5 linked regions of the Homo sapiens genome follow. The protein of the gene in region 1 purifies or fractionates together with the protein of each later gene. This does not show direct contact. Each region holds a gene or a part of one and is shown in the gene's direction. Other genes may lie near its edges. The genes, in order: NTF3, METTL5, KCTD18, CA1 and ITIH3.

Evidence for each region.
Region 2: the proteins of NTF3 (region 1) and METTL5 purify together in Homo sapiens (affinity purification with mass spectrometry; one large-scale study listed by BioGRID and IntAct). This does not show direct contact.
Region 3: the proteins of NTF3 (region 1) and KCTD18 purify together in Homo sapiens (affinity purification with mass spectrometry; one large-scale study listed by BioGRID and IntAct). This does not show direct contact.
Region 4: the proteins of NTF3 (region 1) and CA1 purify together in Homo sapiens (affinity purification with mass spectrometry; one large-scale study listed by BioGRID and IntAct). This does not show direct contact.
Region 5: the proteins of NTF3 (region 1) and ITIH3 purify together in Homo sapiens (affinity purification with mass spectrometry, with the first as the bait; one large-scale study listed by BioGRID). This does not show direct contact.

What each region holds. Positions count from the first base shown.
Region 1 is NC_000012.12:5,433,775-5,440,219, forward strand, and holds part of NTF3 (neurotrophin-3 isoform 1 preproprotein), read left to right. Parts: intron 1-6,445. UniProt on the Homo sapiens protein: Seems to promote the survival of visceral and proprioceptive sensory neurons.
Region 2 is NC_000002.12:169,813,947-169,820,391, reverse strand, and holds part of METTL5 (rRNA N(6)-adenosine-methyltransferase METTL5), read left to right. Parts: intron 1-748; coding exon 749-831; intron 832-4,013; exon of another isoform or gene 4,014-4,113; intron 4,114-4,863; coding exon 4,864-4,915; intron 4,916-6,445. UniProt on the Homo sapiens protein: Catalytic subunit of a heterodimer with TRMT112, which specifically methylates the 6th position of adenine in position 1832 of 18S rRNA.
Region 3 is NC_000002.12:200,488,796-200,494,045, reverse strand, and holds the end of KCTD18 (BTB/POZ domain-containing protein KCTD18), read left to right. Parts: intron 1-771; coding exon 772-874; intron 875-3,429; coding exon 3,430-3,946; 3' UTR 3,947-5,088; downstream 5,089-5,250.
Region 4 is NC_000008.11:85,338,383-85,344,827, reverse strand, and holds part of CA1 (carbonic anhydrase 1), read left to right. Parts: intron 1-2,002; exon of another isoform or gene 2,003-2,079; intron 2,080-3,113; exon of another isoform or gene 3,114-3,168; 5' UTR 3,169-3,192; coding exon 3,193-3,229; intron 3,230-6,378; coding exon 6,379-6,445. UniProt on the Homo sapiens protein: Catalyzes the reversible hydration of carbon dioxide. Can hydrate cyanamide to urea.
Region 5 is NC_000003.12:52,795,177-52,801,621, forward strand, and holds part of ITIH3 (inter-alpha-trypsin inhibitor heavy chain H3 isoform 4 preproprotein), read left to right. Parts: intron 1-426; coding exon 427-447; intron 448-1,304; coding exon 1,305-1,471; intron 1,472-1,562; coding exon 1,563-1,667; intron 1,668-1,928; coding exon 1,929-2,091; intron 2,092-2,640; coding exon 2,641-2,754; intron 2,755-3,789; coding exon 3,790-3,915; intron 3,916-4,195; coding exon 4,196-4,312; intron 4,313-4,576; coding exon 4,577-4,745; intron 4,746-5,361; coding exon 5,362-5,487; intron 5,488-5,788; coding exon 5,789-5,970; intron 5,971-6,445. UniProt on the Homo sapiens protein: May act as a carrier of hyaluronan in serum or as a binding protein between hyaluronan and other matrix protein, including those on cell surfaces in tissues to regulate the localization, synthesis and degradation of hyaluronan which are essential to cells undergoing biological processes.

The sequences.
Region 1 (6,445 bases):
GGCTCAGAGCTAGAGAGCTCGGGAGACTGTGCGCCTGTGGACTTGTTTATGTGTGTGAAGAGGCGGGGGCGAGGGCCTGCTGAGAGGGGAGGGGAGCCTGGAAGGGGTGGGTGTTTCTCCTGGAGCCTGATGTTTGTAACTCAGCTGATTATGGAGTGCACTGAGCGACCTGCTTTTTAAATAAAGAGGTGCCCGCTCCTACCCCGCAAAACAGCGAACGAGGAGAACATGGAAGCGCTCTGTCCTAAACGTCAGGATGGGAGAAAGTTGTAACATAGAGGAGACTTTTCCAGAGGTCCTGTTTTCACAACACTCAGAAGTTCTCCAGCGTACTCAGCCTGCCTCCCGCCTGCCCTCAATTCCTTTTTGACATGTCACACAAAGAAAGCTGAAAGGTAGAATGTGGAGGATAAACTCCAACCCCCTCTGCCTTGGGCGCAAACACACAGACTTAGGTATCGTGTTAGGAGGTAAGGGGGTTGGAAAATAATGCAGGCTCCGGTAGACAGTGTTGAAGGGAGATAGAAAGTCTGGGGTATTTCCCCTAGGGAGAGTGTGTGGGATTTTGTGTTGGTGAGGACTGGAGTGTAGCTGGACTTAGAGGGTTTGGTTGTGTGTGAATGGGATATGCTTATCTATGGAGTGAGATTGTGACCATTGAGTGAGTGGTCAGGGAGGGATGGGGATGTTTTTCCAAAGTGTGTGTGTGTGTGTGTGTGTGTGTGTGTGTGTAGGGGAAGGTGGCAAAAGAGCTGGAGTCCTATCCCTCTTTGGTGCCTGGGAGGTGTGTGTTTCTGGGGAGTCTGTCGGATGGGCATCTGTGTGCTTAGCGGGAGACAAGAGCTTGCAGGAACATAGGTGTAGCTAATGCGAAATCTGTGCCTATGAAGGGTGTCAGAGCAGGAGGAGAGGTGCAGCCTGTTGAAGACAGATGGCTTGTGCATGCCTGCACAAACACATGGAGTGGGTGTGGTGTAGGAGGGCGGCTGTGTGTGTGAGGGAAAGGTGGATGCATGTGGAAGGTTGGGCGCCTGAGGATTACCAAAGGGATGTGTGTGGGGGGTGGGGGAAGATTATCTGAGGAGCACGGGGTTTGAACTTCATGAGGGTGCACTGGGAAATTTGGCTGGAATGGCACTGGGGCATGTAGGGGGTAGAAAAGTGTGAGCTCAGATCCTCTTTATGGAAAGACAAAGCATTTGCAGGGAAGGACACCGGGTTGGTGTTGGTGTTTGCCTCCCCCCTCCTTCCTCCCCAGAGAGAAGAGAATTGGAGGAGGCTTAGAATGAGGGATGTACATTTAAGGGGAAAAGTCCTTGTGCATTGGCACTGGGTGGGAACAGGAAGAGATGTGTGCATAAGACTGAAGTAAGTAGAGGAATGCACTATCTGTGCCTGGTGTCAGGGATGCATGTTGTATAATGTTTTGTAATGGGTTTCTTATGTAATAGGAGAATTCACTATCACCAGTTCATATTGATAATCAATTAAAGCTAATGGAGTGCCTACTGGATGCTCAGCCCATTGCTGGGTACTGGGGCATGGCACACTGCCCTGGAAAAATTCCTTCTCCAGGCTCAGTAAAACTGATGCAATTTTGCCAGAAATAGACAGAGCTCGACGCTTGTTGAGGTTTCTTCAAGGTCTATAATTCAGTTTCTAGAGATGTTTATGGATCTTGGGGGCCAAAGGGAAGCTGACTTGAAATATATCTCTGGTTTTGTAAAAAGTGGGGCATAAAGAGAGGGATGATGTAGACTTTTGTGTATTGGGAAGGGAGCTGGACGGTGTTGTTGTTTCTTGTGTGGGGTGTGGGCTGGGAATTGGAGGGTGCTGCACTTCAGGTCAGAATGCAGGTCCAGATCCCTCTAAGGATTGAGTTTCTAAGAGTACACAGAGCCTCCTTCATAGCTGGAATGAGACCTGTTATGTGGAGCTGGAGAATGGTGAAGTCATGATCAAGGAAGAGATGGACTGGGAGTGTTTGTTCATCTTTGATGTTTTCTGGGCTACGAGTGTAAAGCTAACCTGAGTGTGTGTTGGGGGGGTGGGTATGCATGCAGGTGCGTGCACATGCACTTTGGCCTGGAGTAACGTAACTGGGAGAAAACTAGCGAGGTGGATAGGAGGGGTGGATATTCTGGCTCTTGTGAAGGGGGTGCCAGTATGTGTTTTTGCAGGAATTCTGTGTGTCTGGGGAAGGATAAAAATTGTCTTGGATACTCAGATGTGCATCTTTAGCGAAAAAAGGTGTACACAAAAGAAGGGCCGTAGACTTTGGGGAATGAGACAAAGGTGTCGTTGATCGGGTCCATACCCTGAGATGGCTGGTGAGGCAACTGGGTAGGAACAGAGTGAAGGCTGTGCTTTTGTGATGCACACATCTGCCTGTCTGGAGCAGACGATGGGGATCCCCATTTGATTAGGTTCTGACCACCGTTGGGCATATGTTTGGGAGGACTTTATTTGACTCATGACATTTTTGAATTCATGAAGTTACAGCTGTGCCATTTTAAGGGTCTACCTTATTTTTGAGAGGGAAACTCATCTGTGTAAGAGATAGTTTATATAGGGCTTGACTATTGGTCAGAAGATCCGGGGCAGATATTTCTGAGAGCAGGGTGGTGAAGTGCAAGACTGGATTGGGAATGTCTTAGTTCTAGTCCAGTTCTACCACTTGGGAAAAGTGTGACTTTGGGGACATTTTTAATCTCTATAACTCTTCTGTTTCTCTTTTTGTAAAGGGGCAATATAATGACTCAAGGAGAAGGAAAGTTCACTCCTCTTTTCCCCCATCAAAACTTGATGTGTTTAGTTGTATACAGCCATACAAAGATGAAATGTAATTAAATACAGGTGCTAGCACGTATGTAGGTCATTGTGAAAATAGGATCTGGACCCCTTTCTCTTTACAATGCAACTTAATCAGTAATCATGATGCCCACAGCATCTCTACTGCTCACTCATTGTGTAAATAAAACTTTTTATAACTGCCTCAGTTTACTCATCCAGAAGCTGGAGGCAGCCAAACCTAGATTATAGATGATGGAAATCTTTAAGATCTTTGAGCTATTCAGAGGAAAGGTAGTCTAAGAATCAATGTTATTAATGATCAGAGACAGACATTTCTTTATTTTTTAACATCAGCTATGCAGACCACAGCACCAAAAGAAATGTGACGTGGAGAACAGCAAAAATAATAATTGCCCTTGACATAGGCACCATTTGAATAAAAGAAGAGCAAAGTCTAGCCTGCCTGGTAAGAGGAAAGCCTGGGCTTTGGGTCTTTGAAATTCTTTGTGCCCAGTGCAGCAAGTTGGGTACAGCCACTTTCCCCAGAGATGAAGATGGAGTCGTAGAGGGGCATGGAAACACACTGAAACCTCCGATTCCTCCCAGAAGTCAGTACATGCTGTCAACTCCTGGCTCAGAGTCAGGCTCCCATCCTTGAGTTCAGTGGCCATAAATAGTCAGGAGCTAAGCTATTTCCAAGAGGCACTAAACTAATTCTGTTGCTTTTCTTGGCGAGATTGGGCCAATTAAGTTGATTGGAAGAGGTCACTGCTGATGGGTCTCACATTCCCCAGGCGGGACAGGCCAGCAGAGTTTAATTACATAACATTTCCCATGTCTTCACTTCCACTCCCAGATGTATCAGATGTTCAGGCCTCTCCTCTTTCCCTACATTCAGGATGCCTGACGGAGCAGGCGGCTTCTGCTACAAGCTTCTCCAGACCTTTTCCTGAGCAGTTACAGCACTCCCACCCCAACTGGAGGGAATGCAAGTCTGTGCATTGCCTGGAAGTGAGAGAGGGGATGCAGGCTGACACAGAAGATCTTTAGAGCCCACCACCCTGCCTCAAGCCTCACCCGCGGCTGTTTTACTCTTTAACGAGGCAGGCAGTTTCTGGCGTTGGGGATGTTGAACTAATGACCGTTGCTAGGGTTTTAGATTTAGTTTTATTTAAAAATGAGTTTGTTGGAAAAGGACCAAATCTTCTACTGGAGACAAGCCTAAGCCCCGTGTGGTGCTGCTGATAAGGTCTGTGGATGTACTTTGTGCATGGACAGGCATGTGTGGAGTAAGAGGAGAGCACAGGATGTGCGTGCGTGCGTGCTGGGGGACACGTGAGCGTAGGAGATGCCCTGGGTAGATGGGGCATTTGTAGAGCTTATGTTATGGGTGGCAGGTATCTGGATGCTTGGCTCAGATTGGATTGTCATTGGATTGCTTCTTACAGGTGGGACAGCCTGAGAAAAAAGTTGGGGACACCTTCCTTCAGATCATTTTTATATGGGCATGTTGAACCTTGAAGTATGAGGCCAGTGTAGATATTACCTCATTCTTGCCTGGATGGATTTCTAACAAGATTGAGGCTGGACAAAAAAAAAAAAAGTCTTTCAGAGGACTCATTTTAGAACCTGTGAGAACACATGTAGATGGCCCCAGAGCGTTAAAGTATTTTTTGTTGTTGTTAATAGTTTTCCATAACTCAGTCTTTTGTTTTACCTAAAAATACTGAGAGGCTAGAGGTTGCACACACCCCCACATGGTCAGAATGCATTTGCTGTTCATGTCCCCATCTGTGCCATGGTCCTTCTCAAATAGGATTAATTGGGAACTACGGAGAGCTTGCCGCAGCTTTGGTTGTCCTCACAGGACAAACCTATGACTGACCGTGATGTCATTGAAACAGAACAGATTTTGACGTGAAATTTCGTGTGGTCTGTTGTGATTGCTCACTTTTTAGTAACATCTCCAGAGAAGACATTTGTTGAGCCCCATTTTTTTTTGTGGGTTTGTTCAGTCAGAGATTTGTTGGAAGATTTAAGGTTCTCCAACATTCAAGGCCAGAGATTTTGGAGGAAACAGTAGCTAACAAGAGCCCAGGCCAGGGTGACCTTCAGTAGCCTGAGGCAGCAGGTAGCTGCCTGACTTAGAAGTGAAGGACCAGGTTCAGTGACTGGGCTCTGTCACTAATTAGCTGCTACTGTGTGACCCTGGACATTCTCTGTAGGACATGACTTTGCCATCTGTAAATGAAGGGCTTGAATTAGAAGATCTCCCAGTCCCATTCCAGCCCTGTCACTGTAGGATTCCACAGTAGCCACATCCTCCTACCTAATCAGTGCTAATTACCTCACTTGGAGTGCACCCTGGCACGCCCTTAACGAGCTCCTGTTTTTATCTTTGGGGAATGGCTGAGTCAAAGGCAGAAAAGCGTGCAAAAAATTTGCCAGAGTGTTTCCTTTTGGCCAAGAATGCTCTAAACATTGGCTTAGCCTACACAGGGTGTGCAGAGCTGAAAGGGGTGGGATTTGGCTTTCTGGTAGGTCTGATGCTAATCATTCAGCTTCCACGTGAATGTCTTTCAGTGGCAATGTCTCTGACTAAGGTAAGCATCCATCTTTAAGATGATGGATGATGATGATGATGACAGTTAATATTAGAGTACTTACTGGGTGCCAGGCATTTTTACAGCTATTACATGGCATTATCTCAGTACTCAAAATAATCTCATTTACAGATGGGGGTACTGAGGTTATGTGAGGTTAAGGGGTATGCTGATGTTCTTGGCTTTCCAGCCTGAAGTCTGTGGCATCCCAAGCCCATCACCTGCTAGTCAGATTCTGTTTTTTATGTCTGTGATGTCATCCAGATGGGAGCTGGGTCCATCTTCTTCTGCAAAGTTGGTCACCCCATAGGGTAACCTGCTCCCTGCCCCCGGAAGCCTCCTTGTCATGTGCAAGACAAATGTTTAGGTTTTCTAGCCACCTGCTGGCAAGCATGTGTCAGATCTGTCTCAGCCTCCATTGGCCCTCTCCCTTTACTTCTTGTTCTGTTGACAAGGGAACCTGCCCTTACAGAATACGGATATTGATTTAAGCCACAATTGCCTCCTTGTAAACTCTATAAAATTGGAGCTGGACATCTGGTTTTGATCCACACGCCCACGAGAGGTGGTAGGTCCCAGCATTCTTGAGTCCTGGAATTGCACAGAATCAAAGTGAAAAAGAATATGAATGGAGAGCATGAGGTATCTTTAGAATTTGGAAGATGGCTTTCTTTGATAGGCTAGGGAACTCACACCATTTAGACTGGGGCCAAAGTTAAGGTAGGTTTCTTGCTGGGAGGTTGGGGGGCAGGGGTCACTGCTAAAGACTGAGGTCCCCAGGCTGTGTTTGATGCAGAGCAGAGCAGCTGTAGAGCCCTCCAGCTGAGGATTTGCCACTGCACACCATTCTCTGGGCAGTACCAGAAATAGAGAAGCCAAACAGGTTCTTGGGGTGGATGTTGCCCTGTTTGAAGATTGTGACTAAAGGCTCATTCCTTCTTCCTCCACTGATTTCCTCACCATCACTACCACATATACATCATCAAGACAGTTAAGGACAGGTGACTTTGTTCTGTTGCTTAAACATATTTGCATGTACAAATAAATGT
Region 2 (6,445 bases), on another chromosome or scaffold:
TTAATGTCTTAACAGACCCAAGGGTTTCTACATGTGCCCATCAGTAACAGTGACTCACCGTGGCTGTTAATTTTGTGTGTACTGTGGGCAAGGAGGTTAGGAAGTCAGTGAGGGTAGGAAAAGACATGCATAGTTTGGCCGGGCGTGGTGGCTCACGCCTATAATCCCAGCACTTTGGAGGCTGAGGTGGGTGGATTACCTGAGGTCGGGAGTTTGAGACCAGCCTGACCAACATGGAGAAACCCCGTCTCTACTAAAAATACAAAATGAGCCAGGCATGGTGGCACATGCCTGTAATCCCAGCCACTAGGGAGGCTGAGGCAGGAGAATCACTTGAATCCGGGAGGCGGAGGTTGCGGTGAGCTGAGATCATGCTATTGCACTCCAGCCTGGGCAACAAGAGCGAAACAAAAAAAAAAAAGACATGCATAGTTTAAAAAGTACCCTGCCCCCACCAAGATGATTCTGAATAGTACTCTATGCATTTCCTTCTCCCCTTTTTGAAGTCATTAATGTTGGAATATAATATTAAAATTTTTACTTTATCCTTATTTAACCAAGACAGTATAATTCTGGTTTTATTCTACCAGCCTTAAAATAATATTTTGATAGTTTATTTGTACCCTTATTGCTAAAAGATTTCAAGGTGGCTATTTTGAAGTTTGGAAGAAAATATTTCTAAATCCTACTAACTTAATCTTCTGTTTTGAGAAGAGGTAAATAGGAGCTTTTTTTCTACTCTTCACAGGGACAGATATGGCTTTTCTAAAGACTGCTTTGGAAATGGCAAGAACAGCAGTATATTCCTTACACAAATCCTCAACTAGAGAAGTAAGTTCAAATCATCTGATATTCTGTGGCATTGATTTTTAAATTCATGACAGTGTTTTTAGGATTTGCTGTGAATACTAGATACCACAGTATCTATTTCTCCTGACCATTTTGACATGTGAAACTTAAATTTTCCACTTAACCAGCTAGCATCTGATTGGCCTTTTTCCAGGCTATAAGACTTATTTCCTCAAAGATTTTTTTCAGACAGGAACTGTTGCCAGAGGAGAGACTATAACTCAGGAGTAGAAAAGTGTGTTGTAACTAGGATTACTGTATGTTTTGGTTTCTCTGAGTAAGTCTTAGTTGATCCCTTTTGTCCCATTGTCCCGGTGTGGCCTGATGTACTTAAGGGAGGCAGTAAGGCCAGGTTTTCAGAACACTTGAGCCTGGAGCTAAACAGATCTGAGTTCAGAAATCACCTATTCTTACTTTTGCAGCATATAACACATGGAGAGGTGTATAAGTTGTAGTCCAGGAAACTGGGGGAAGGGGCAGTACATTTTTTTAGTGTCAGTATAACACAATAGTTAGGAACAGAGATTCTGAAGCCAGACCAGATTCTCTGGGTTCAGATCCAAGTTCTGCTGCCTCCCAGCTGTTTTCTTGGTCAAGGTAATTGAGTTTCATCATCAAGGTAATTGAGCTTTTGTCATCTATACTATCCTCACCTGTACTCTAAGTGTAAGGGACTGAGAGTACCAATTGTACTTCATAAGAATTGTGAGGATTACATGAGTTAATATTTACAAAGCACTTAGATCAGTGTCTGACATGTGTAATTGCTATGTGTTAGCTATTATTATTTAAATCATACATGTATTCAAAGATTTTAAAGTGCTTTTGTAGGAAAAATACTTAATTCATGTAAATACAGTACGTAAGAACCCAGTTGGAAATAATACATTCTAGTTACATGGTAATGTGATAACCTTTTAAAAAGCATAAAATATAACAGCTAAAAAGAACTATACTGCTAATAATAAGTAGTGGTACATGTAGGCAAGCAACAGGACACAACATAGCTAGTAAATAAATCCTCACTCACTATATATGAAAGCAAACACCAGTAAACATTGGTATCCAAACCTGTGTCCCCAAGAACACCCTCAGGTTTGATGATTCACTAGGAAATCTCACAGGACTCAGCATCTAGTCTTATTCATGGCTATGATGTATTACAGTGAAAGGATATAGAGCAAAATCAGCAAGGAGAAAGGTGCATTAGGCAGAGAATGGGGTAAACCAGGGCCAGGCTTCTGGAGTCTTCTGCCAGTAGAATAACACAGGACACAATTAATTTTCCCAGCATGAATTATTGATAACACATGTGAAACATTGCCAACCAGGGAAGCTCATTAGAGACTCAGTGCCCAGGGCTTTTATTAGGGACTGATCATGTAGGCAATTCCCTTTCTGACACATACCCAAATTCTAGACTCCCAGTAGGAAAACAGGTGTTCAGCATAAACAGTGTTAGGCACAGTCAGTCACTATTATTAAGGGAGTAGGGAGTGGGAGGCTTCCCAAAATCTAAGTTCCCAGTCTCCAGACAAGGGCCAAACTAAGCAGGCCTTTCTAAGGATAAGCAGCCAGGCCTGCTGTGAACTCTTTTCTGCACAGCTTGGCATAACATGAATTTTTTTTTTAATTATACTTTAAGTTCTAGGGTACATGTGCACAACATGCAGGTTACATACGTAGACATGTGCCATGTTGGTTTGCTGCACCCATCAACTTGTCATTTACATTAGGTATTTCTCCTAATGCTATCTCTCCGCCAGCCCCCCACCCCCCAACAGGCCCCCGTGTGTTATGTTCCCCTCCCTGTGTCCATGTGTTCTCGTTGTTCAACTCCCACTTATGAGTGAGAACATGCGGTGTTTGGTTTTCTGTCCTTGTGATAGTTTGCTGAGAATGATGGTTTCCAGCTTCATCCCATGAACTCATCCTTTTTTATGGCTGCATAGTATTCCATGGTGTATATGTGCCACATTTTCTTTATCCAGTCTATTATCGATGGACATTTGAGTTGGTTCCAAGTCTTTGCTATTGTGAATAGTGCCGCAGTAAACATACATGTGCATGTGTCTTTATAGCAGCATGATTTATAACCCTTTGGGTATATACCCAGTCATGGGATGGCTGGGTCAAATGGTATTTCTAGTTCTAGATCGTTGAAGAATCTCCACACTGTCTTCCACAATGGTTGAACTAATTTACACTCCTAACAGTGTAAAAGCATTCCTATTTCTCCACATCCTCTCCAGCATCTGTTGTTTCCTGACTTTTTAATGATTGCCATTCTAACTGGTATGAGATGGTATCTCATTGTGGTTTTGATTTGCATTTCTCTGATGACCACTGATGATGAGCATTTTTTCATATGTCTGTTGGCTGCATAAATGTCTTCTTTTGGGAAGTGTCTGTTCATATCTTTTGCCCACTTTTTTGATGGGTTTTTTTTTCTTGTAAATTTGTTTCAGTTGTTTATAGATTCTGGATATTAGCCCTTTGTCAGATGGATAGATTGCAAAAATGTTCTCCCATTCTGTAGGCTGCCTGTTCACTTTCATGATAGTTTCTTTTGCTGTGCAGAAGCTCTTTAGTTTAATTAGATCCCATTTATCAATTTTGGCTTTGTTGCCATTGCTTTTGGTGTTTTGGTCATGAAATCTTTGCCCATGCCTATGTCCTGAATGGTATTGCCTAGGTTTTCTTCTAGAGTTTTTAGGTCTTACATTTAGATTTTTAATCCATCTTGAGTTAATTTTCATGTAAGGTGTAAGGAACGGATCCAGTTTCAGTTTTCTGCATATGGCTAGCCAGTTTTCCCAGCACCATTTATTAAATAGGGAATCCTTTTCCCATTGCTTGTTTTTGTCAGGTTTGTCAAAGATCAGATGGTTGTAGATGTGTGGTGTTATTTCTGAGGCCTCTGTTCTGTTCCATTGGTCTATATATCTGTTTTGGTACCAGTACCATGCTATTTTGGTTACTGTAGCTTTGTAGTATAGTTTGAAGTCAGGTAGCATGGTGCTTCCAGCTTTGTTCTTTTTGCTTAGGATTGTCTTGGCTATGTGGGCTCTTTTGGTTCCATATGAAATTTAAAGTAGTTTTTTCCAATTCTGTGAAGAAAGTCAGTGGTCGCTTGATGGTGATAGCATTGAATCTATAAATTACCTTGGGTAGTATGGCCATTTTCATGATACAGTGCTCTACACTTTCGGAGAAACTTCTCTAGTAACGAACTATAGAAATGATCCCTGAAAGTATAGTCTTGGCATAACATGAATTTTATAAAACTCAGTTTTACTGCATGAACTGAATTCCCCATGTACCTATATCTCTGCCAAATGGTTTCTAGGCTAGCTAGCTGTATATATCAATGAAATAATGCTACAGAAACCATATGAGAACATTACACATCTTTGATAGATTTCTGAAATAGTCATGCATCCTTTAACAACAGGGATATGTTCTGACTAATGCATTCTGAGGTGATTTCATCATTGTGCAAACATAGAGTGGACCACCGAGGCTCTGTGGTTATAGTCTGTTGTTCCTAGGCTACAAACCTGTCAACCTATTACTGTATTGAATACTACAGGCAATTGTAACACAATGGTATTCTTTTGATCTAAACATATATAAACACCAAGAAGGTAATGTGTTGTGCTGTGATGTCAAGATAGCTACATCATTAGGCAATAGCAATTTTTCAGCTCCATTTATAATTTTATGGGACTACCAAAATATATGCAGTCCCTAGATAACCCCAAATGGCATTATGTGGTGCATGAGTAGCTTTCTATCACTTGGATTTATTGTGTGATTTGGTTCAGATTGTTAAATGTATTGAAATTGATTTATTATTTTCAGAATACTATCCATTCAATTGAAATTTTTATAAGGGTCTAGATTCTAATGAAATTTTAAGCTTAAAAACTCAATCTCAAGTATTAGTAAAAAGCAATTTTAAAAAATCATTATTTAAAAATCAGCTCATAACAACATATTATTTATGTTCAGCATGTTCAAAAGAAAGCTGCAGAATGGAAAATCAAGATAGATATTATAGCAGGTAAGACAAATCTCAATCCTAATATCCAAAAGGGCCAACATGTATTCGCCCAACCAAAATTTTCATGCAGGTGCTGAGAAGATAAACTATGCTTTACAGTGTGGCAAAATGTGCATGATTGGTAATAGATTGGAAATGGAGTAAAAGCAGAATGAACACTTAGCCTGAGACTGTCCTAATTTATGCGATTTACTGAAAATTTCTAATAGCACTCAGGTATTTGGTCACTCCAGACTCAGGCAGAACACTGTATAGCAGCACAATGGCTAAAAACATGGGCTGGGGGCCAGGTGTGGTGGCTCACGCCTGTAATCCTAGCACTTTGGGAGGCCAAGGTGGGCAGATCACCTGAGGTTTGGAGCTCAAGACCAGCCTGGCCAACATGGTGAAACCCCATCTCTACTAAAAATATAAAAAATTAGCCAGGCATGGTGGCGCACACGTGTAATCTCAGCTACTTGGGAGACTGAGGCGGGAGAATCGCTTGAGTCCCAGAGGCAGAGGTTGCAGTGAGCCGAGATCGCACCACTGTTCTTCAGCCTGGATGACAGAGGAGACTCAGTCTCAAAAAAACAAAAACAAACAAATGAAAAAAAAAAGTGGGCCGGGCGCGGTAGCTCACGCCTGTAATCCCAGCACTTTGGGAGGCTGAGGCAGGCGGATCACGAGGTCAGGAAATTGAGACTATCCTGGCTAACATGGTGAAACCCCGTCTCTACTAAAAATACAAAAAAATTAGCCAGGTGTGGTGGCAGGCACCTGTAGTCCCAGCTATTCAGGAGGCTGAGGCAGAAGAATGGTGTGAACCTGGGAGGCGGAGCTTGCAGTGAGCTGAGATCGCGCCACTGCTCTCTAGCCTAAGCAACAGAGTGAGATTCCATCTCAAAAAAAAAAAAAAAAGTGGGCTTGGAGTTGGTCAGATCTTGGTTTGAAATTCATTCATAGAAAATGCCACCACATTATTCCTAGATAATCTAATTTCATTTTCTTTTTTCTTTTTTTTTTTTTGAGACAAAGCCTTGCTCTGTTACCCAGGCTGGAGTGCAGTGGCAACCTCCACCTCCCGGGTTCAAGCGATGCTCTTGCCTCAGTCTCCCAAATAGTTGGGACTACAGGCATGCACTACCACGCCCGGCTAATTTTTTAATCTTTAGTAGAGACAGGGTTTCACCACGTTGGCAGGGCTGGTCTTGAACTCCTGACCTCAGTGATCCTCCAGCCTCGGCCTCCCAAAGTGCTGGGATTACAGGTGTGAGCCACTGAGCCCAGCCTCTAATTTCATTCTCTAATTACCCCTGGAATCAAATAACATTTATCTTTTTCTTCTAAATATCTATGAGTAAATCATGTTTGATACATTTTTATTACTAAATTGGGTAATAGTCACAAACATCAAAACAGGAAAAGCATATAACTAGAAGCTAATTATAATCTAAGCCTGAAATAAGAGTGCAATAAGGGAACATGTTTTTTCACAATAATAAACTAACAATGAATTGCCACTGTAGTGTTAAACATACAGCTAGATAT
Region 3 (5,250 bases), on another chromosome or scaffold:
TAATAAAAAACATAACAGATTTAAAAATTAAAATGAATTTGAATGGCATTTTTGCCTAACTCACTAGCTCAGATTCTTGTTGGAAAAGGTGGTTATCGGGTGGTGATGTCTCATATTTGTACAGTGGTTGCCATTTTCAGAGTAGTTCACAAAGTTCCCCTGATTTGATGTTACAGCAACCCAGTGAAGTAGACAAGGCAAGTGTTACAACCCACCCCCTATACAATACTTATACTGCTCCCTACGACTACTGGGAATAAAGGTACTTGACAGTTTTTGAGTGCTTAGTCTGTGCTAGACCCTGTTCTAAGCACTTTGCATTTATTAACTCATTTAATCATCACAGTGGTCCTTCAAGGTACATACTATTATTGTCATCATTTCACAGCTGAGAAAATTCAGGCCCAGAAAAGTAACTTTCCCAAGGTGACATGAATAGTGAGTGAGAGATGGAGATTGAGACCCACACAGGCTTTGCTGGAGCCTGAGCCCTCACTCTCAGCTGCCCTGAGTATGCATCATAACCTGCTGAATCTTCTCAGCTAATCAGTGGCAAAGCTGGTGGCCAGCTCTTCCTGACCCAGGTCGTGAGCTGTGTTGCTCCCTGGCCCTAGCTCCTCGTGTGAGCGCTTCCTGTTCATGTTGTGCACACCTCTCTTTGCCAAACGGGAGGCATGAACCTCAGACTCTGGCAGGTCTTAGGCGAAACAGTGTTGCTCAGCATTTTGCAGTGGATGGTAGCTGTCTTAATTATGTCTTTTTACCTTCCAGGTGTTAGCTACTGGCGGGTGCCTCATGAGCTGATAGAGTGTTGGACTCTAGAAGAACGGCCTTTACTTGGAAGCCTGCGTCACATGGCTCCAATTCGAAAGAGGTTATCTATGCTGTGTTGTTTATTTGTTTTGTTTTTTTAATCGCTGACATTTTTACTGCCTTTGTGAAGGGAAAATGAATAATAATTCTTGACCTTACTAAGCTTATTAATCACCGATTTGAATATTCTGTCTTACCATCAAAATATAGATCTTGATAAATATAAAGTTACCAAAACTATGTAAAAAGTGGCTATAATTCTTTGTAACTGCATGTGTAACATGTTCTTATTGAGAGAGTGATTCTAAAATTACTAGTGGACACAGTGGGCATGCTGTGGTAAATATTTTTGCTCCACAGAAGTGGAATCCCAGGCTTTACTGGCAATAGTAAAAAAAAAATCTATTTAGACTTAATACTTGAAATTTCTTGTGGCTTATTCTGAGTTCCTTTCTGTTTCCTATTGCCACAAATAGCACTTTTATTAAATGGTATTTTCCTGTGTTCCATGAAATTATTAGCATTAAATTCACTCCACAGCTGTGTCTTTCACTGTGTTTTAAATACATTTAAAATCACATTTTTTTTACAGTGTCTGGGTTTTATTCATGGCCTTCAGATGTTCTGATTTCTTGATCACATGTTCTACAATTTAATTGAATGCCCGTATGGAATTTCAGACTACTTTCTTACATTTGCCCTCTGGGTCTTTCACTGAAATGCGGAGATGCTTATTCAGTTTTTAGTAGTTAACCATCACTTGTCAAAACAGATCTTATTTCTTAAAAGCCATAATTTTATTATCATTTATTTTACCTTTTGAGCCTACAGTTAGCAAATATATTTGAGTCAAGAGCAGTGGTTCTCAACGAGGGGTGATTTTGCCTTCCAGGGGATATTTGACAATGTTTGGCAACATTTTTAGTTGACACACTGTGGGGTGAGAGTTGCTACTGGCATTTAGAAGGTAGAGGCCAAGGGTGCTGCTAAACATCCTACAGTGCACAGGGCAGCCCCCCAGAACAAAGAATTATGTGACCAAAATGGTAATAGTGCCGAGGTTGAGAAACCTCAGTGTGGAGTCTGGTGGAAGATGTAGATGGAAAACATAGCAGGCAGGCAGGAGTGGTTTACGGAGACCCTCCTCTGTGTTAGTTATCTTTCCTCTACAAGTTTACGAAGCATTATTTTTGATGCATCAACAGGATAACGATGATGATGACTGAGAAGCACTTGTAAGGTCCCAAGGAGCCATCTGGTGACCAGGGAAAATGTTCAGTAGGGATTTAGGGTTGAATATATTATATTTGCACTCTTTGCTACAGATGGCAATTTTCAAATAACCACGTTATTATGATCCCATTTCCAAGAATGGGAGTTGAATAAGTTGTAATCGCCTCTAATGACACATTGATGCTATGCAGACTTGCAAGAGAGCAGAGTGAGAGGATTGCAGTCACCTTTCATGCTTGGGGTGGTCCTCAGGAAGTGAAGCTGAAGGAGCAGGCAAGGTTTTGACAATGATTGTTTGACGGTTTTAAGGTCATTTAAAAAAATGTTCCCCCGTAGGCTTTTTATAATGAATGGTAAACTCAGTTCTGGAATCTTTGAAGGTTTGTCCATGACTGTTCTAGCAGTCCCCAAAATGGGTTCCAAAGAATGCAAATTTTACTGGCCATCAAAGGTTTCACTATAGAATGATTGGGAAATACAGATATCTTTAGTATAGGCCTTTCATAATCTTTAATATGTTAACATGAATTTTAAAGCTTCAAGAAGAAAAAAAGATATGCAGCAGTTTATTAGTTTTGCATTGCTATAAAGGACTATCAGGCTGGGTAATTTATAAAGAAAAGAGGTTTATTTTGACTCATGGTTCTGCAGTCTGTACAAGAAGGTTAGGGCCAGCATATGCTTCTGGTGAGGCCTCAGGAAGCTTACAATCATGGCAGAAGGTGAAGGGAAGCAGATATGTCACACGGTGAGAGACAGCAAGAGATGCCAGGCTTTTAAACAGCCAGCTCCCACGTGAACGAATAGAGTGAGAACTCACTCATTACCATGGGAGAGGGCACAAAGCCATTCATGAGGGATCCTCCCCCATGACCCAAACACCTCTGTCAGGCTCCACCTCCAACATTGGGGATCACATTTCAACATGAGCTTCGGGGGGGACATGCAGCCAAACTATATCAAGCAATATTTCTAATATTTATTTGATTGTGAAATCTTTTTTTTTCTTTACTAAATCTCTTTAAACTGCAGTTCTGGGAAAAACAATTTGTGATATTTCTGGTTATCCCGTAGGTCACATCATGATACTTGGGAACAGGGTGATATATTGTATTCTTATGTAAAGTGCCAAATTTTAATTTGCTAGTATTAATATTATGTGTGTGAGTTTACATAATTCGTATTCAAATTAAGACCAATCTTTTGTAAACTTGCTTACTGACCTTGGTGGGAGATGAGAGATGAGGTAGGTGCCCATAAACCTCTTGACTCTTTAATTCTTGACCAAAACCTTTCTGTTAATGCTGAAGGTAAACTTGGGAGATGTTTTCATGAGTTACTAAAACTATACATGTGGAAAATGACACGCTTCTGTATTTCTAGGCGACTGATAACGTTCAATGAAGCGGACGAAAGTGTGAACTATAAGACTGGTCCTAAGCCAGTTAGATTTTTGGGCCCTTCCACAAGTACCCAAATTAAAGTCAAGAACTCGGCCTCAGTCACGGTGTCTCCAGCCAGTGCCATCCAGACGTCGGCTGGGGCGACAGCAAACCGGTTTCAAAGTGGTAGCCGCAGAAAGGCAGCTCAGCGCTCTGCACCTTCCAGAGCCACGGCCCTGGTGGGCACGGGGGCACCTGGGCATCCTCAGGCTTCCCCTGGGGCTGCGAGCGCTGAAAATGGAGGCACGCACTTACCTCCAGCTAAGGTGCTACTCTCCGACAAGAAGCCTACACCCCAGCGGGTGATAAAGCTGAAGAGGACTCCGCTGTGCGCCACCGCGCCTTGCCTGCCCTCCCCCACGGCCACGAGGCAGGCCAACTCCCTCAAGCCGCTTCCCGGCGAAGCTGCCCGTGCCTTGGGAGTGCGGACTGAGAACGGGAAGAACAAGGGAAATTGATGAAAGTGGTGGACTTGAAATTTCCCGTTCATCTCCCAAAGCTTTCAACCCATTCGACGCAAAGAAGTGACACTTTCTTAATGCAGCAGAGGGGAAGCTTAGGTTTATGTTGAGGATTCTGTTCCTGGAATTGTGTGAGCTAGGAATGGAGGAGGGGAGACTTTCAATGGTTAAGGCTCCATTTCTCATTTTCCCAACTTTTATATGATTGTCTATGGGCAGTTTGAATTTCTGGTTTTCAATTTATTTTTTAATGATTAATTCGTATTAAGGCAACAAGACAGTACAACAAATAATCTCTAGAGAGGTCCACTTTGTTGCTGAAGTAAACGTTACTTGTTGCAACCCGAGGATGGGCATGAGGTTTGGCCTTAGGTATTCCTGTCTGGGAAAATGGAGGGGGTGATATTAGTGGTTCCCTGTACTATATCACAGCCAAGAGAGATTAGAGAGAGAAAATGTAGATCAAGGCGAGCTGCCTACAAATTACTCTGTCTCCAAAGGCAACGTGAAAAGAAATGATGGGGAGGAAAAAACCCCATAGATTGAATTAGCACTTTGACTCTCACTTAATTCAACGATTTTCTTTCCTAGATTGGCTTTTCTTACTCTTTTCTGTTAGTAGATTTATTTATAAACACCACAAGAAGATCTCTTGGGATCAGAATTATATAATATCTTTGAAGTAAATTATTAAAATATCCTATTTAATTTGAATAGTGAAGTTTTGAAAATACTTTGAAAAAGAGAAGTAAAAGTTTAACTTTTTAACTAAAGTTAGTATTTGTTTTTCAGAAATGACCACTGAAGATTCATTCTGATTATACAATATGATTTTTATGCATAAAATTTCCATGTAACTTGAATTTAATATTTTTAAACAGAATATTTTGACTAATCCTCTATTTTTTCATGACTATTCAGTTGTGTGTGTTTATTCGTAAATGTTATGTTTTGTAATTGGATCACATATTTCTACTTTCAGTGAGAGTATGCCTTCACTATGTTAAAAAATAAGCTCATAAAACAGGGTACTTTTTATTCAAATGCTTATCATTGTACTTTCATTGCTTTGAAAGAGTAAAGTAAGTATACTCAAAACATTACGTTTTACAAAATCAAATAAAACTTTTCCATAAAAAGTGGTATTTTCTGTGTCTGTACTTTTTAAAGCCGTGGAGCCCTGTAGTAGTTTGAAAACTTATTAGTTTATTTAGGTTATCCATTTTCACTTACAAAATTGCTTTCTTGTGCAGATAAAGTATGAAATAATTAAATCAATTTTGGATAACTATCCATCTACT
Region 4 (6,445 bases), on another chromosome or scaffold:
CTCTAAGCATTGTAGAGCAGCTCTGGCTTTTTGGAATTTGGTCCTGCCAAGGTGTGGATTTTTCCTTTCAGTGGCATTTAGCAGATCTCGTCCATAACTAGGCACGGATGGCACTCTTTTTCACTTTTTGTTCCTTTTATAGCAGAGAGTTATTTTCTAAGTACAAATTTAAATTTGAAACTCACCATAATTTATTTGCTTCCAGAAGAGTTCATGTTTTTGATTTTAAAATATTAAAATAAAAATTAGATGAAAAGTATCAAAGGAACTAGAAGAACAAAAGTTAAAATAAGAAATACTAAGGCTCTTAAATATAATTTAAAACTGATTTAAATAGATACTTAAAAACACTGAAGAAATGCTTTTTTGAAAAACATTTTAGGGTACTAAAAAATATTTAGTACCCTAAATTTAGTACCATTTAATTTAGAAATTAATTGGTGTTAATAAATAAATGTAATAATCTAATATACATAATATATGTATAAATTCAAATTATATATTATATACTGTATAATATATAATTATATTATATACTGTATATAATATATAATTATATATTATATACTGTATATAATATATAATTATATATTATATACTGTATATAATATAATTATATTATATACTGTATAATATATAATTATATATTATATACAGTATATAATATACAGTATATAATATATAATTATATATATAAATTTAAATTTTATATATATAAAATTTAAAAGTATATATATATATATATACTTTTAGTTTAGAAGAGCAGAGTCTGTGTAGATTAAACTCCTTCTTGGTAGGCAAAAGTAACCCAAAGATCATCCTGGAAAAGTATACTGGGAGGAAACTGTTGGTGAAAGTGAAGTGAATACAAAACTAAACATCTTGAATTTGGCATAGATTCAGCTGAGAGAAGCAAAATTTGTAAGCAGAAAAAGAAGGATAAAGGTAAATGGGAAGGGTGTTTGGACTTATAAAGGCTCATTAAACTTTATATCCTTTCTCTATATAATTTTCTGCCAGTACAATAACACACCCTGGGTACATAATGAAATAAAAGGTGATAATAGTTAGGGTCCAGTGTCATTCTGTGCCTAAAACTTTAAATAAATTGCCATTCCATATGGATGTTAAAGCATTCATGTGACAAATCATCACATAGTCGTGTAATGAAAGGGGGTTGCTGTTTTTCAAATTTGTTGATTAATAGAGTAGTTCAAGCTAAAGTTGCTTTTTACAAAGTATACAATATTAGGAGGCAAATTACCTGGCAGGGGGTAGCCTGCTCCTGTCACTCCATGAGCTTCCGGAGTGAAGTAAGCCCAAGGATGAAGCCTGACTCTTGGTCATCTTGAGCCAAACCAAGCTACATCACCTAATCCAATCCTCCAGAAAATAGAATCAACTGGAGGTCAGTGGACAATTGTTGACAGTGGAAGGCTAAGCAAATGTATTAGCTTTGGAATTACACAGATCTAGGTTTAAACCCTAGGCTTATGGGATATAAGCAGCCACTTGCAAGTTTTGTAACTCTGAGGAGGTGTCTTCACCTCTGTAAGCCTCAATATTTTTTTAATGTAAAACACAATTTTTTTCTTTTTCCAGAAACAGAGTATCACTATGTGGCCCAAGCTGGTCTGGACCTCCTAGGTGCAAGAGATCCTCCCACCTCAGCCTAAAACACAGATTTTAATGCCCAATTTTGTTATAATAAGAATTAAATAAGTTAATGTACGTAAAGTTTTTAGCACAGCAGTTGATCCCTGTTGGGCCTTCAATAAACAGTACTTTGGAAAAAAAAAAAGAATTCTCTTTTAAGCAATATCTTCTTATGCTTACTAAAGCCATAGAATGGGAGCTTGGGCCTCTTCCCACTCTGTGAATGTTCATGACCACAGCCCACTCTGCATATGAGACAACGAACCATCACTAACTGCAAAGGAGCAAACAACGTGTCTCCAGTCAGCCTTAGTGAAAATTGCTCCTGATCCCTCTCTTCTTTCAGGGGTTGCAGCAGCTCAGACAATCCTTACCATGTGAAAGGAGGAATGACTGTCATGGCATGAAAAAAGCATCACTATGGTAGCTTATTTTTCCGGTTTTCTTTTCTTTGAGCATGTTTAGAGCTTTGAACATGTAGAACTGGCCAGAGTCTGGCACATCCTAATCAGTTTTCTTTGCCATCCTGAAAAGTCCTGTGTACCTTCTCATCATTCAGTTGGCATCAGTTCTCATCTTGGTCCAGGCTTAACTTGCACTTAAGAGTATTGTGAGCATAGGAGGGGAATTAGTGTGGCATTTGGTGGAGGTACAGTGAAGAAGGGAACTGGATTAGGAGGCTGAAGTCTTGGCTTCTTGGCTTGTTGCCAGTTGTGGCAAAGTACCTCAACATCTCTCAATTACAAATGCTAATTCTTACTATATAGCATTTGTATGTATGTGTGATGGTGAAATAAAATAATAAGAAACTGGTTTATAAATTATATAGAGCTATTAAAAAATAAGACCTTTATTCTTGTAGACCTATTTGATGTATAAAATAAATATTGTGTTATATTTAACTTTAATATTAATAAAATCTTCTCCATTTATGAATTCCAATATTGCTCCAAAATGGACTTTATTCTTACCCTGTATATCTATAAAATGTATCATTATAAATAACATATATTACAAATGATTAGTAATTTAATTATCTGATTTTAAATTAACATTAAGATACTAGTTCAGATCAGCCTGTAAACACACAAATTATTTTCCTGATAAATTACTTTTGCATATATTGCTTAGGTAACTAACAAAGGTAGAGTTGGAAATCTTGAGTGTACAAAGTATTTTTCATTTAGAAAATCTAAAGAATTACATATTATAATATTAAGCCATATCTTCTACTAACATGAGTGAAACAGGACTTGGCTTTATAAAATCTAGGATCTGATAATTCTCTTTTACAATATAAGAAAATTAAGCAATTGAAACTAACATAGCCCTTGTAGAATTTTTTACAACACCTTTTTTTTAGATATGTGTACTTCCTGATAAGCAGAGATGATGAAATAATGGCCTATTAAAAGCAAGTAAGTTTCTATAAAAACGCCCAAGCAGGGATTTAAGGCATCTCCTGCATGCACAGTTGCAGTTAGTTATTCCAGGTATTATTTTTGTTTTCAGAAAAAGAAAACTCAGTAGAAGATAATGGCAAGTCCAGACTGGGGATATGATGACAAAAATGGTAAGAGTTCTCCTGTTTATATAGATCAAAATGATAACTTGTTCCCATTTCCAACAGAAAAGATATTAAGTATTTAAAATAATTGTACAGCTATAGGTTAATTGTTGAACTGTCTGCTTTAAATAATTATACTATCTTTGCATGTATTCTTAGCATTGTCTTTTGGGGCATGGCTGACTACAAAATATGTTTGATATATATATATACAGGCATACCTCAGAGATACTGAAGGTTCAGTTTCAGACCCCTATCATTAAGCAAATATCACAAGAAAGCAAGTCACATAAAATTTGGAGTTTTCCATGGCATTTACAAGTTATGTTTACACTATGCTGTTGTCTATTAAGTGTGCAATAGCATGTTTAAAAAATCTACATACCTTAATTAAAAATACTTTATTGCTAAAGTATGCTAGTGATCACCTGAGCCTTCAGAAGTATTAATTTTTTTTTCTTTGACACAGAGTCCTCTCTGTCGCCCAGCTAGAGTGCAATGGCATGATCTAGGCTCACTGCAATCTCTGCCTCCCAGGTTCAAGTGATTCTCCTGCCTCAGCCTCCCGAGTAGCTGGGACTACAGGTGCCCACCACCACGCCTAGCTAATTTTTTTGTATTTTTAGTAGAGATGGGGTTCCACCGTGTTAGCCAGGATGGTCTTGATCTCCCAACCTCATGATCTGCCCTCCTTGGCCTCCCAACGTGCTGGGATTACAGGCATGAGCCACCACGCCCAGCCAAGTATTAATCTTTTTGATGGTGGAGGGTCTTGCCTCAGTGTGGATGACTGCTGACTGATCAGGATAGTGGTTGCTGAAGGTTGGGAAGGCTCAAAGTTATCCATGACTTTGGAATTAACTTCTTTCAAACTCCTGTTAATGTTGATAACTTGACCTTCTCCCATGAATTACAAATGTTCATGCAGAATGGTGAATCCTTTCCAGACAACTTCCATTTCCTTTACTCAGATCCATCATAAAAAAAATTATTATCTATGGGAACTACAGCCTTACAAAGTGTATTCTTAAATAAGATTTGAAAGTTGAAATTACTCCTTGATCCATAGACTGCAGAATAGATGCTGTGTTAGCAGGCATAAGCATAACATCAATCTCCTTGTACATCTCCATCAGAGCTCCTGGGTGACCAGGTGCACTGTCAATGAGCAGTGATATTTTGAAAGGAATCTTCTTTTACTGAGGAGTAGAGCTCAACAGTGGGCTTGAAAATAGTCAGTAAACCAGGCTGTAAATAGATGTGCTGTCATTCAGGCTTTGTTGTTCCTTTTACAGAGCACAGGCAGAGTAGATTGAGTATAATTCTTAAGGGTCCTAGGATTTTCAGAATGTTAAATGAGTGTTGGCTTCAACTTAAAGTCAACAGTTGCATTTGACCCTAACAAAAGAGTCAGGCTGTTTTTAAAACTTTGAAACCATGCATTGACTTCTCCTCTCTAGCTATGAAAGTCCTAGATGCTATCTCCTTCCAAAAGAAGGCTGTTTTGTCTGCTCTGAAAATCTGTTGTTTAGTGTAGTCACCTTCATTGGTTATCTTAGCTAGATCTTCTGTATAACTGTCTGCGGCTTCTGTATCAGCACTTGCCACATCACCTCACACTTTCATGTTATGGAGATGGCATCTTTCTTTAAATCTCATAAACCAACCTCGACTAGCTTCTAACTTTTCTTCTGCAGCTTCTTTGCCTTTCTCAGGCTTCACAGAATTAAAAAGAGCTATAGCCTTGCTCTCATTAGGATTCGGCTTAAGGGAATGTGGTTGTTGGTTTTTGATCTTCTATCCAGACTATGCAAACTTTCTCCATATCAGCAATAATGCTGCTTTGCTTTCTTATCATTTGTGTGTGCACTGGTGTAGCACCTTTAATTTTCTCCAAGAACTTTTCTTTTGCATTCACGGCTTGACTAACTGGCACAAGAGGTCTAGTTTTTGGCCTGTCTCAACTCTTGACATGCCTTCTTCACTGAGCTTAATCATTTCTAGCTTTTGATTTAAAGTGAGAAACATGTGACTCTTCCTCTCACTGGAGTACTTACAGGTCATTGTAGGGTTATTAAACAGATTAATTTCAATATTCTTGTCTCAGGGAATAGGCAGACTTACAGAGAGGGAGATAGATGGGGAATAGCCAGTCAGTAAAGTAGTTAAAACACACACAACATTTACAGATTAAGTTCATCATCTTACTTGGACATGGTTTATGGTGCCACAACACTATTATAATAGTAACATCAAAGATCTCCATGATAGATATATGAACAATTAAAAAGTTTAAAATATTGTGAGAATTACCAAAATGTGACACAGAGACGTGAAATAAACACATGCTGTTGAAAATATGCCCCTAATAAGCTTGCTTGATGCAAGGTTGCTACAAATCTTCAGTTTGTAAAAAATGCAATATCTGCAAAGAACAATAAAGTGAAGCGCAATAAAATGAGTTAAGCTTGTATTAGAAATCTATTGCTAATAATAAAATATGTATGGTCTGATTCTATAGACTATGAGTATAGATCTATATTAGTAGTATTGACAAATACACTATTTTATAGTACAATATAGAAAAGGGGCCGGGTGCAGTGGCTCATGCTTGTAATCCCAGCACTTTGGGAGACCAAGGCAGGTGGATCACTTGAAGTCAGGAGTTCGAGACAAGCCTGGACAACATGATGAAACCCCATCTCTACTAAAAATACAAAAAAATTGGCCAGGCATGGTGGCATGCTCCTGTAATCCCAGCTACTTGGGAAGCTCACGCATGAGAATCGCTTGAGCTTGGGAGGCAGAGGTTGCAGTGAGCCAAGAGCGCATCACTGCACTCCAGCCTGGGTGACAGAGCAAGACTCTGTCAAAAAAAAAAAAAAAAAGAGAGAGAAAGAAAGAGAGAGAGAGAAAGAAGGAAAGAAAGAAAGAAAGAAAGAAAGAAAGAAAGAAAGAAAGAAAGAAAGAAAAAGAAGGAAAGAAAGAAAGAAAAGGGACATCTTCAAACACAGAATTTCTATTAATCTTAAGAGAATATCATTTAATACACTGAAATAAACCCTAATCTAATAAGCAAACAGGTAACTATACTCCTAAAACTTGGAATCAAGCATTTGATAAGACATTGATTTTACACGTGTTTGTCCTGGTAGGTCCTGAACAATGGAGCAAGCTGTATCCCATTGCCAATGGAAATAACCAGTCCCCTGTTGATATTAA
Region 5 (6,445 bases), on another chromosome or scaffold:
GTTCAAGTCTCAAACGAGTGTGACCTCTACAAAATGCTCAGTTGAGCCCTGCGGGGTGTGGCGGGGGCAGGGGTGCTCTGGAAGGAGGCCTAAAGGGGCCTGGGGGCCAGGGAAAGGCAGAATGGGAGATAGAATGAGGTGGGGCATGTAGGGTGTGAAGAGAGCTCTGGGTTCAGTTCCCCCTGCCCTGCTCTCCTGGTAACCTGGATACCTGCCCCTCTCTGGACCTCAGTTTCCCCATCTATTCAGAGTTTTTCCTACTCTGACATGTGGCTCTGGAGGGTCCTATGTCTGGGGGCCACTCAGGTGTGTGGGGGGCAGGGCACCACTGAACCCCTGGTCTCAGCCCAGAGCCTCCCAGGCCATGCGGCCTTGGTGTTGGCCTTGGCCTGATTCCTGTGTTTGTGTTTGTTTTTGTTTTTTCAGAAACGGAGCCTCCCGGAAGGGGTAAGAACTTTCACCAGGGGGTGGGACCGAGTGGGGCAGGGCAGGATGGAGCTGGTTCCCCAACTGCTGAAGGTGTAGGCTATAACAGCTGACTCCTCACAGCTGGCAAACAGCTTACGGCCCTCTGCCCTGGCAGCCTCCAACAGCGCAGGACTCCTGGGAAAGAGCACCACAGAGTGACGACCCCTCCAACCTCGCAGGATGTAGCCCAAGAGGGCCCCTCACAGGCATCCCTTCCTTCCGCAGACACTTCCTTAGCACTTGCTGGTACCTGGCTCTGTGAAGCGGTCCCTGCCACACCCTCACGAAGCATCTTTATATCCCTAGGGGGAGGGGGCTGGAACACCTCCCTAGAGCCTCTCAAAATTCAACACCCCTATTGGAAAGAGGGTGTTTGGAGACTTCCCTTGGCACAGGAAATCAGTTCCTCTTTGGGAGACAGAATGAGGCAATTACCTAAAGACCCAGGAGGTGGGCTGGGCTGTGTGCTTGAGGGAGTGTGAGGTGTGGAGGATGAGCAGGAAGAGCCAGGGGCAGATGCTCCAGAGCCAGTGTCCCACGCATAGCTGGAGCTCAGGGTGACTGGACGGGAAAGGGCAAGCTCTCACTGGCTGCAGTGGTGTGTAAACGGATCGCAGAATTAAGGAGGCAGGACAAGCATCTGAATAATGGTGGCCACCAGAACATGGAGACTGGAGACGCCACCAAGTCTTCCAGTGTAGAAGACCTGGAGGATGAGGGTTGCGTGCCGGGCAGGGGCCTCAGAGCCTCCAAGGGTTTGCAAGGGAGGTGGCTGGGTTGCAAACCTGCTTCTCCAGTGTCCCAGTCTGGCTGATTCTCCACCCACCTCCCCAAAGGTGGCCAATGGCATCGAGGTCTACAGTACCAAAATCAACTCCAAGGTGACCTCCCGTTTTGCTCACAATGTTGTCACCATGAGAGCCGTCAACCGTGCAGACACGGCCAAGGAGGTTTCCTTTGATGTGGAGCTGCCCAAGACGGCCTTCATCACCAACTTCACCTTGTGGGTACCACCATGGCTGCTGGCTCTGGGCTCGGGAACAGGGGGTCTGGCCCAGTGTGATCTCCCTACCCCCAACTCTCTTTCCCTGCAGGACCATCGACGGTGTTACCTACCCTGGGAATGTCAAGGAGAAGGAAGTTGCCAAGAAGCAGTATGAAAAGGCTGTGTCCCAGGGCAAGACGGCCGGCTTGGTCAAGTAAGTATGGACTCCCAGGCCTTGGGGAGAATGTCTGGGATCCAAGGGCCTTCAGGGCTACAAACAACAACAACAGCTATTATTATTGGTATAGCAAAATGTGCCCATAATTTTGCCATTATCCCACGTTGAGGCTGAGGCAAGTGAGGCTCAGAATGGTTAGGGATCTCCCTCGCCAAAGGGCTGGGCCTGGGGCCGAGGGCCGAGGAAGGGTGGGCTCCTGCAGTCTTTGAGGGAGTCACCATCTCGCACCCTGGTCAGGGCCTCTGGGAGGAAGTTGGAGAAGTTCACAGTCTCGGTCAACGTGGCTGCAGGCAGCAAAGTCACCTTCGAGCTAACCTACGAGGAGCTGCTGAAGAGGCACAAGGGCAAGTACGAGATGTACCTCAAGGTCCAGCCTAAGCAACTGGTCAAACACTTTGAGGTAATCAACCGCCCCTGCAGACCTGGGGGGACGGCAGCGGGGTGCAGGAACCCGCCCATGGGGCAGTCTCAGACAGGGGTCAAAAACAAAAGTTCTGCCTCACGGCATCCCCCATCCTTGGCTGGGAAGGCTGGAGGAATTCAATGGTTCTGGCCAAAAGCATCTGGGGCCAAGGGGAAGAGGCTGGGATGGACTCCACAGATGCAGATTCGGTGCTGGGCCCTCAAGAGCAACACCAGCAAGTGCCTCTGTAAGGCTTCTCACTGGGCACATGGGCATTTTTCCTACCTCAAAGCTGAAAGCCAAAGGAAAAGCATCAGTGGTGGAATTTCGGGCGCATATGGCAGGCGGTGGTAACACCTCCCGATCAGCATACTCTCCTCCAAGCCCCTGTGGTCACTTTCGCAGTGGGAGACACCAGGCTTGGCCCTCAGCACTGTCCTAGAGGGTCCCTGCATCACCACAGACCCATCTCATTCCCATTGGCCTTGTTCTGGGAACTGGCCTCTGAGGTCACTGAGTGACATTTCCTTACTTTGGCCATTTCAGATCGAGGTAGACATCTTCGAGCCTCAGGGAATCAGCATGCTGGATGCTGAGGCCTCTTTCATCACCAACGACCTCCTGGGAAGCGCCCTCACCAAGTCCTTCTCAGGGAAAAAGGTGATGTAGATGCCTCTCAGACCTGGTGGGGCAGGGGACAGGAATACTGACTCCAGCAGAACAAGCCTGCAGCCTAGGGCTTAGCTGCTGCAAGCATGCATGTGTTGGGGTGGGGCTGGGGATCAATCTGCAACTATCACCTTCCTCCTTGCCCACTGGGGTTGGGAGTGAGGATGCTGAGGGCAGGGGCTGCTGACAATGACCTGCCAGAGGAGCCATTTACAAAGCCTGGTCCCGTTCCCCCTTGGGAAATGGACAGGGCAGGGCTTATCTTCCCTGTTTTACAGGTCCCGAGGCTGAAGCCCAAGGGAGTCATTTAGATCTACTGACTCCACAATGAGAGGTGAAAGACTAAAGAGAACTTCATTCTTGGTGCTAGGTGGTTGACTCCAGTCCCCAAGGCTCCCAGCTGTTCCAGGGGCCTTAATGGCAGTGGACAGTGGGTGAATAAATGTTTGTATAAACAACAAACCAATCATCCAGGACTTCCAGGGCGAGGCCCGAGGAGCACACACTCAGAGGACTGCTGGCTTCTGCAGGGCCACATCCTGCCCCGGGACCCTCCTCCTCCCCTTTCTCCTCCTTTCTCCCTCCCCTCCTCTTGGCACCCACACACCAACATTCCAAACCTACAAGAAATTCCTTTTAATGGGAAGCTACCCCTTCCCTAAGTAGCTTCTCAGTGCTGAGCTCCAAGGTAGCCTGGGCTAATGGGTGTGTGAGGCCAAGAAAAAGGGAGCTGGAAGCTGAATCAGCCAAGGCCTGTGCCCAGCCAGGAGCCCTGATCTCCAAGGGGAAAAGCGGTGCTCAGAAAGGCCGGAGCGTGGTAAACAGTGCCTTCCAGTGAGTCCTGGGAGCTGCAGAGCACGCCACCGGCGGGCAGGGCTGCCCAGGCCTCCAGCTCTTGCTAGCCTCTGCCCTGCCAAGGGCTCCTCCCTGTGAGGCTGCACCTCTGCTCCCTCAGCTAAGGGCTGAGGTCTCCCAGTGGGCAGGCCCTGGCCGAGCTGAGCAAGGTCTTTCATCTCCATCCCTTAGGGCCATGTGTCCTTCAAGCCCAGCTTAGACCAACAGCGTTCATGCCCAACCTGTACAGACTCCCTCCTCAATGGAGATTTCACTATCACCTATGACGTGAACAGAGAATCTCCTGGCAACGTGCAGGTACCCGGGCTGGCTGATTCATCATCAGGGTGGGGCGAGGGCTGGTCGGGCGGGGGCTGCAGCTGGATCTAGTGCCATCACCCTGGGTCCTCAGCCCAAGGCTGTTTTCCTGCAGGATGTGGGACAGCTGATGGCCTAGAGCCTGGTGCAGCACCCCCTAGAGGGTGGGATAGGAACGTCTTTTTCTTGGGCTGGTAAATGTCTGGCTTCTACCTGCAAGAATAGTCAATGTGGTGTTGCTAAAAGGACACCGGCCTCCGTCCCTCTCCCCACTTTCCAGATAGTCAATGGCTACTTCGTGCACTTCTTTGCACCTCAAGGCCTTCCAGTGGTGCCTAAGAACGTGGCCTTTGTGATTGACATCAGCGGCTCCATGGCTGGTCGGAAATTAGAGCAGGTAATCAGCACCAGTGGCACAGCCAGGGCTCGGGGTAGTAGGGGGTGGAAGAGATTTTTTTTTTTAACTGGAAAAAGCTGATCTTTGTGGTGAATGAGGAGAAAGGGGACAGGATAAGAGAAGGCTCACGGCCTCTGCCCGCTTCTGTGGCAAGCCTCAGGCAGGGCTCGCTGGTGCAGATGGCGTGGGCTGCACCGCCTGCTGAGCTGAGAAGGGACCTCACTCTCTGCTGCGGCTTCTCCCAGCTCTTTGTCTCTCCTCCAGACAAAGGAGGCCCTTCTCAGAATCCTGGAAGATATGCAAGAGGAAGACTATCTGAATTTCATCCTGTTCAGTGGAGATGTGTCCACATGGAAAGAGCACTTAGTCCAGGCCACGCCCGAGAACCTCCAGGAGGCCAGGACGTTTGTGAAGAGCATGGAGGATAAAGGAAGTAAGAGCGGAGCTGGAGCCCACACACCTCCTAGCGGTGCCTCCCTCTGTCCCTGAGCAGCCTGCAACCCCCCTCTTAGGGACTCTGCTGGTCTCAGGCCCTCTTCAGATCTGAGCTGGGGTAGAGGTGGGAGTGGATGGTCCTCAGGCTTGAAGACAGAATATCGGCTGTCTTCTCCGTGGTCCAGGGAAACCCATTCTTTCTGTTTCTAATCCATGATCCTGGTATCTCACAAGTCCCAGCAAGATAAGGCCACAGAGAACCCTTCTTCTTGGCCCTGTTTCATATGGAAAATGGCACGATGTCTACACTGCTCCCCTCTCCTCCCAGCAAGAGGTACTGGGAGTCCATCCAACTCTGCCAAAGGGCTTTCACAATCACCATGTGCTTTTCGTCTTCACCATGTGCCTTTCATCCCCATTTGAAAGTGGAAGTTGTTTGTTTGTTTGTTCATGTGGTGGTTCATTCATTGTTTGCTGAGTACCACCATGGGCTGGCAGATAGGGTCCTTGGGCACATGAGTGGGGCCGGCTGTCCCGGCCTCCTCCGCTCCAGCCTGTCTGCACACTGGCACCCTGAGGACACCCTCCCACGGTGCTGTCTGTCTGTGTCCCAGTGACCAACATCAATGACGGGCTGCTGAGGGGCATCAGTATGCTGAACAAGGCCCGAGAGGAGCACAGAATCCCAGAGAGGAGCACCTCCATTGTCATCATGCTGACTGATGGGGATGCCAATGTTGGTGAGGAGCACGGGCATGGTTTTGAGCTAGGGCTGGAGTGCTTGGCTGCTGCTCCTGGCTCTGTAGCTGGCTCATTGGAAAACCTGGGGCAGCTCTTCCCTGGGTTCCCTGTGGTCTGGGAGCCCCTCAAGGGCAGGGTCCTGCCTCCCTCTGCCAGGGCTCTCCACCACCTGCCCCACAAGGGCTCATGGTCGTGACTCCAGCAACTCTGCATGTGCAGGAGTCCGGTCTCCCCAGACAGAGCTGGTCTAGACCATCCCCAGGGCTGGGGCTGGACTGTGAACACCCCCTTCTCCAACAGGTGAGAGCAGACCCGAAAAAATCCAAGAGAATGTGCGGAATGCCATCGGGGGCAAGTTCCCCTTGTATAACCTGGGCTTTGGCAACAATCTGAATTATAACTTCCTGGAGAACATGGCCCTGGAGAACCATGGGTTTGCCCGGCGCATTTATGAGGACTCTGATGCCGATTTGCAGTTGCAGGTATGCCTTGTCTTGCACACTTCCGGGCATAAGGAGCTCACTACTTCCTCAGACAGCTGCTCCATAAGGTGACAGTTCTAGTTATTAGGAAGAGCTTCGTCTTGGGTCAAAATCCACCTCTGACTATCTCTTACCCATCAGTAAAGATTCTGATTTTGTCCTTGGGCTACACAACAGGCCCGTTTCTTCAACAGGATTATCAGAGCAAACACAGGACATCTGGTTCAATATGAATTTCTGATAAATAATGAATTTTTGTAGTGTAAGTATGCCCCAAATATTGCACAGGACATTGTATTAGTGTATGGCGGCTGCCATACCAAAGTACCAAGTGGCTTCAATGAGAGAAACGTATTGTCTCCCAGTTCCAGAGCCCGGACATCCCAGATCCATGTGGCGGTGGGTTGGTTCCTTCTGAGGGCTATGAGGGCAGATCTTTCTAGGCCTCTTTCCTTTTCTCCATGGCTTATCAATG